Regions from separate parts of the Homo sapiens genome. Here region 1 is linked to region 2. A link means that fine-mapping ties the variant in region 2 to the expression of a gene that starts in the linked region. Tissue or cell type: fibroblasts. Region 2 holds a variant in brackets; the other region holds the start of a gene. All regions are shown on one strand. Distances are between the middles of the regions.

Region 1 (2,909 bases), 480 kb after region 2:
GCGCCTTGTCAGATACCTGTTAAAATGAAATTCTTTTTCCAGTTCTAGGACTTGCTGCCGGGTGTAGGCCGTTCGGGACCGCTTGGGTTCCCCACCGGTGTAGTTGGGGTTCACTGCGAGACAAAACAGACAGGACAGGCAGGTCAGCGCCCGGCCACTAGTTAGGCCCCTCGCCTCCGCCGCTCACTTCCTGGCGCGCCCCGAGGCCCGCGGCCCTCCCCGCGCGCTCCCAAGCTCGCTTGCTTCCTCCCTCCCGCCCTCTCCCCGGCGCACACGCTCACTCCCACCCACCTCCTCAAACACACCCACATACCCCAGGCTTGCGGGATCCCCAAATGTGCTCCTTCTTCTGGGCCCACCACCAGGTCCGGAACCCTCAAGCATTTTGGAAATCCCCCGCTCCTCCACAGCCTTCCCCCTGCTCTGAAAATGGAGTCCTCCCCCACCCCCCCATCCCCACCCCCTTTTGCGCCCACAGCCGAGCAGCCAGCCACATGGTCCTGACCTGCTCCCTCAGCTATAAAAATTTATGGGGAGAGTAATTGCGGCGCCCATGGAAGCTCCACACGCCCCCACCTACTCGCACCCCCTTCCAGAGGACCCAGGCTAACGGGCTGGGATGTGGACAGAAAGGTTACTGGACCCTAGCCTTACCCGAATTCACGTGCACCTTCTTCATCCAGGGGTAGACCACGGCCGGCTGCTTGAGTGCCGTCCCGGAGGGCGGCTGCTTGGGGTCGGACTGACTGTAGGCCCGGGCGCCAGGCAGGGGCGCCGGCGGAGGCGCCGGGGGAGCTGGGCAAGGCTCTCCTGGAGCGGCGTAGTGACCGCCGGGGCCGCCTGGCTCTTGTCCGTGACCCCGCGCAGGCAGCGCCGAGCCAGGCCCGGGGCCGCTGCCTCCGAAAGGCTGCTCACCGAAGTCGGGCCGTGGGTAGAGCCCCGGGGGCTGGAAGTCTGCGCCCTGCGCGCCGCCGCCGTAGTAGTCGGCGCCCTGCTCGCCTAGGTAGCCGCCCTGCAAATACTCCTCGCACGGAGGGAACTTGGGGTCCACATACTTGGAGTTCACCATATACGAACTCATGACCATTAATTTCAGAAGGTAGAAAATACTAATTTTTCTCGTGTTGTCTTTTTTTCTCCTTCCATAGGGCCCTCCTACTTGCTGTCAACTGAATAAAGTTGGGCAGCCATGTGACCAGGCCAGCCAATGGCGAGGGAGCAAGTTTATCACCGGGTTGGTGAGCATCTCATAATTTTCACAAATTTAACTAAATAACATACGTGTAATCAAGTAGCTTGCTATGGCACATTTGAGAGCCCCTGCCAGATATTAATGTAGTTCCAGTCCCCAGCACCCCATTCCCCTCAGGTAATCCCAGCTTTTGTCTGCCACTGATTTTGCCAACCTTCCGTGGCCCTTCCACTCACCCCCAGCTGAATGCAACCCCCGCCCCCCGACACCAAGTAGGCACAGCTCAAGGGAGAATGAATCCTCCTATTGGGGTACAGAGCAATGAAAGGTGGGTGGGTGAACTCGCCTCTGAGTTGGGCAGAGTGCCCCAGGCGAGGAGGGTTCCTGCCTGCCCGCCCTGCCTGCAGCCGGCGGGAGCAGGGATTCTGCCATACAAAGGCCGCCGTCCTGGCTTTGTCTTCATCAGGGTCACCCAAAAGTTACCAGAATCTGGCCAGCTTGAATCAAATTAGGCAATGAGTAACCGCCATGCTTTCTACCAGTGCCCAGGCCCGGGGGTTCCCAGCCAAAGCTGGGCCCTGCCAAAATAGCAGGGGGCCCTCGCTGCCCTTGCCCATGTAGCTGGGGGTGGGCTGGGATGGTGGCAAGGGCACCTCCACCTTGTCAAAATGCACCCTAGAGCTCCCCACTGGGCTTCTTTGAAGCTTGCTTTCTTCCCACAGGCCCCAAATACAAGCAAGCCCCCATTTGGGTACCTTTGCACCTCATGTTCCTGGAGGGCAGAGCTGGGACTGGGCAAGCTGGCCTTGTACCTCACTCCCTAGTACCCCAAAACCTAGCCCTTTGGCCCTGCATCCATGCAACCAATTAGGCTTGCATTCTCTCTTTCTCTCTCTCTCTCTCTTTCTCTCTTTCTGTCTTTCTTTCTTTTCAGCACCCAGAGGATACTCTGTTTAAAGGTGAGGAGCTTCTGGAGAGGAAAAGCTGCTCTATGTCACCAGGCGCAGCTGATCCTCCTGGAGTCCAAGGTAATAAAACAGAACGAGGCGGCTGACCAGCGCCGGCTGCTTCTAGTCTCCATGTCGCACTTTGGTCTCTGGCTATTCCGAAGAAACGTGAAGTTTTTGCATCGACCATATATTCCCCTAGAATCGAATCTGTGACTATACGGATACCACACAAATTCGGTTCTACAGGGTATATATAGACAACGTTACAACCTCTGGGTCCCACCCAGAGTGAGGTACCTAGGTCGCTGCCGGCCCCAATCTCTTCCTCTGAGCCACCACCGTTCGACGCAGCCACCCGCACTTTCTGAGACAGTTCAGGTAGCCTAATGGGCTTGGCGACAATTTGAAGCAATGAGTTCCCTCATTCTTCTGCCAGGGTCAGGGTTACCAAGCAGGCGAACAACCAGAATATTCTTCTTAAGAAAGAAAAAAAGAAAGAAAGAAAGAAAAATAATCCATCCCAAGGATGGCGGCTTTATTAACCACCCTCCCCCACCAGGATCCAAATAACCCTCCTCCTTACCAAGTGGTATTTTCCAGAAAGGAACAAATGCCCTCAGCGGCAGAAGAAAAAGAAGCGAGAGGGGAATATCCTGTGTCTACTCCTTTTCCTACTGCCCGACCAAGCCAGGTTGTCTGCCAAAGCTACTTCTCCAAGAAGTCGCGCATTTACCTTCATGGGCCCTGATCCGGGCTGGCCTCTCCGT
Region 2 (2,909 bases):
CTTTCTGCATAAACAATTGAGAAATATTTTATACTAATCTTTTTATATACAGGGGATAAATTTGAACATGTGTCTTGTTGGTGTAATAAACAATCCAAATTCATTTCTTTCTTGAAAACTTGGCATCGATCTTCATCTTATTTTTTATGCACACAATTTGGACATGCCAGTTTGTAGGCAAGTTTTAAGACAGTGCAAGTTTTATGTGGAAGAATGTATATTAAGGAATGAATAGCTAATAGCCAAAATTAAATCAGGAGGTGTGGCATTCACTCCTTTGGATGATTATTTTAAAGATAGTTTTGCACTCAGGAAGGATTTTCTTATGCTCTGTATTTATGAATATCTAAATTATCCTGCCTTGCAACTTCAAAACTCAATAACCAAATACCAAATTTATGTATTTTCAGTGTGACTAAGGCTAGGAATATGAGAAGCAGATTGGTTTTATAAAAGAAAGCAAGCATTTACAATTGTATTTTAAAATATAATCCTAATTTCAGTTTCTGACAGAAATCTTGTGGTCAGCTCATCAGTTTTTCAGATCAGTTTCTAAATAGCATATAAAAACTACCTTTTCCACATCAGAAGTTCATATTTAGGTTTCCTTAACTGCAAAATCACTTTAAAAGAGAGTGTTTTATGTGAAGGGCCATTTCATGTGTTGGTTCCATCGATTACATATGAATGTATAAAAATCTTGTTTAAAGACCAGTAAAAGTGAGGAAATTCCAAGTCAGGCTGGCTAATTCCATTCATAATTCATCCCGAGTACCTGACTGAGGAAACTTGCAAACAGTTTATAGCTATACATACAAAATAAGTTGACGTGCTTTGTAAGCTGGAAGCAGAGTTAAGTTTGACCTCCCTGCTTGGAAGGTCTTAAATTAATAAAATTATGGAATATGGTTAAGCTTTTCAGTTTCCCAAGAATTTTCCAATATCGATGCTTTTTGGATTTTTGCATTTTGAAAATGTAAGCATGGAAGGACAACTTCTTTTGTGCTGAGATGAAGTTAGCTTTTACCCATCCATTTCCTTCCCACTTAACACATTTGTTCAGTAATTCTTCGAGTGCTGGGGGACAGAGGCCCTGCCTTGAGAAAAGCATATGCCATTTCTCTGCCCCCTTCAACCATCCCCACCCCCAGCCCTCCCTTTATTTCAAGCCAGTTGGACAAGTATTTAGCATTGACACATGTTTCAAACTGCTGCATCCACAGCCCTAGGTAGTTTTGGGGATTGGCAGGAAATCCATCTAGACTTTGCCTTCTGAGCTGGGTAAAACT[A/G]CTAGGAAGTCCTATGCCTTGATATTGTGGCACTTCTAGGCTGTCTTTCCAATTTTAAGCAATCCATCAGTTGTTTTCTAAGACTGCACTGTAGACTGATGCCTTCTCTTAGTTTTGATGTTCAGAAGATTTTTTAAACATGTTCATAGATTTCTTAAACATTCTGAGTAATTGTAATTTTAAACTAGACTAATTTTAGGGTTGAAAACTGTCCCAGAGAGAGTCCTTACATAATAACTTCAATCTGATGTGAACTCGAATGACTTTTTAAAAATAAGATGTTGAAAATGTGGGTTTCTGGTGGAAAAGGCTGCCATTCACTTAGAGTGGGATCCTTAGGACCAGTTAATATCCACCAGACATGCTTCAATAAACTGGAACAAGCCTGATGTGGAATTACTGACTCCCCATTTTCCTGAATGTAGGTCATTTTGTGTCCTTACAATTTAACGTTTGAAGGGATTTCCTGTCTTTGAAGTGCAACAGTTTGTCACCTGCTTGGCTAGCTGCCTTAACAGTTGGGGCTCCTTTCCTACATTGAAAGACTTAGTGACTCCATGTTCCCGGGCTAGAGTTTCCCAGCTCACTGAATGCATGATACCTGCACCTCTGGGACTCTCCTCTACAAGTTAGTGCCTGCAGATCCCCTGTTCCAAGCTTCATTTCTCTAGGTCAAAGAGCCTAAAAGAAAAGCCCGGGCCGGGCGCGGTGGCTCACGCCTGTAATCCCAGCACTTTGGGAGGCCGAGGCGGGCGGATCACGAGGTCAGGAGATCGAGACCATCCCGGCTAAAACGGTGAAACCCCGTCTCTACTAAAAATACAAAAAATTAGCCGGGCGTAGTGGCGGGCGCCTGTAGTCCCAGCTCCTTGGGAGGCTGAGGCAGGAGAATGGCGTGAACCCGGGAGGCGGAGCTTGCAGTGAGCCGAGATCCCGCCACTGCACTCCAGCCTGGGCGACAGAGCGAGACTCCGTCTCAAAAAAAAAAAAAAAAAAAGAAAAGAAAAGCCCGGAGCCATACACTCACCTGGTTGAAGCCATAAAGAGGTAAGCTTTCATAACGTAGGCTATATATCAAAATTCATAGCTTTTTAGAACCGGAGTAACTAGTGCTCAGGCATTAGAGTCTCAGGCTAGAGCAAAACACAGCAACTGGTGCCAAATGTACGCTAGTGGCTGAAACCCATTTAAGTAATAAACAAACAAATGTCCTTTTAAGAATGTGCTATTATTTTTATTTAAGAATGCATATGACTTTATCGCCCCTTATGATGTGAATCTTACAGTTCAATATTTCAAGTGAAAATCTGCCTGTTCGAAAAGAAAATATTCACAAATGAGCAGTGTATTAGAAGACAACTGAATTGCTTCTAAGAATGGTGGGTATGCTAATTTTTACCAAATGATACAACATGTGCATGCCAAAGCTCTTTGTAAACTATAACACACCTCCAAATGAAAGCAATTTGCATATATTTTAATAAACTTGTCTGCCTTTACCACATCCACCAACTAATCCTTATGCTCCCACTGCAAAGACTCTCCTCTTTTTGGAGAGGAACACCAATTGTTTGAAAGCCTGGACTTTCAAACAATCTTAAGGCATCTTCATAGTATCCG

Which allele goes with the higher level. Positions count from the first base shown, and alleles are read on the strand shown. Sizes are in standard deviations (SD) of each study's normalised expression.
In carriers of allele G in region 2, the expression in fibroblasts of the gene that starts at base 1,171 in region 1 tends to be lower than with A alone (large effect, 0.81 SD a copy in GTEx).

Evidence for each region. PIP is the estimated chance that this variant, and not a neighbour inherited with it, causes the effect. A credible set is the group of variants that fine-mapping cannot tell apart.
Region 1: HOXD4 starts here. The variant in region 2 is the best candidate, but not a certain one, in a credible set for the expression of HOXD4 in fibroblasts (GTEx, PIP 0.78).

What each region holds. Positions count from the first base shown.
Region 1 is chr2:176,149,812-176,152,720 of GRCh38, reverse strand. It overlaps HOXD4 (homeobox D4), which reads right to left and starts at 1,171. Exons shown (of 2, transcript NM_014621.3): 1 at 655-1,171; 2 at 1-113. The coding sequence starts at 1,087. It overlaps MIR10B (microRNA 10b), which reads right to left and starts at 2,418; the gene lies at 2,309-2,418. It also overlaps a transcript of HOXD3 not described here. RefSeq lists an enhancer at 719-1,452.
Region 2 is chr2:176,632,792-176,635,700 of GRCh38, reverse strand. LINC01116 (long intergenic non-protein coding RNA 1116) reads left to right here. Exons shown (of 5, transcript NR_188023.1): 2 at 2,576-2,668. Among named protein-coding and RNA genes, the nearest start is that of LINC01116, 3.4 kb to the left of the region's middle. The variant A/G (reference allele first, on the strand shown) is at 1,290.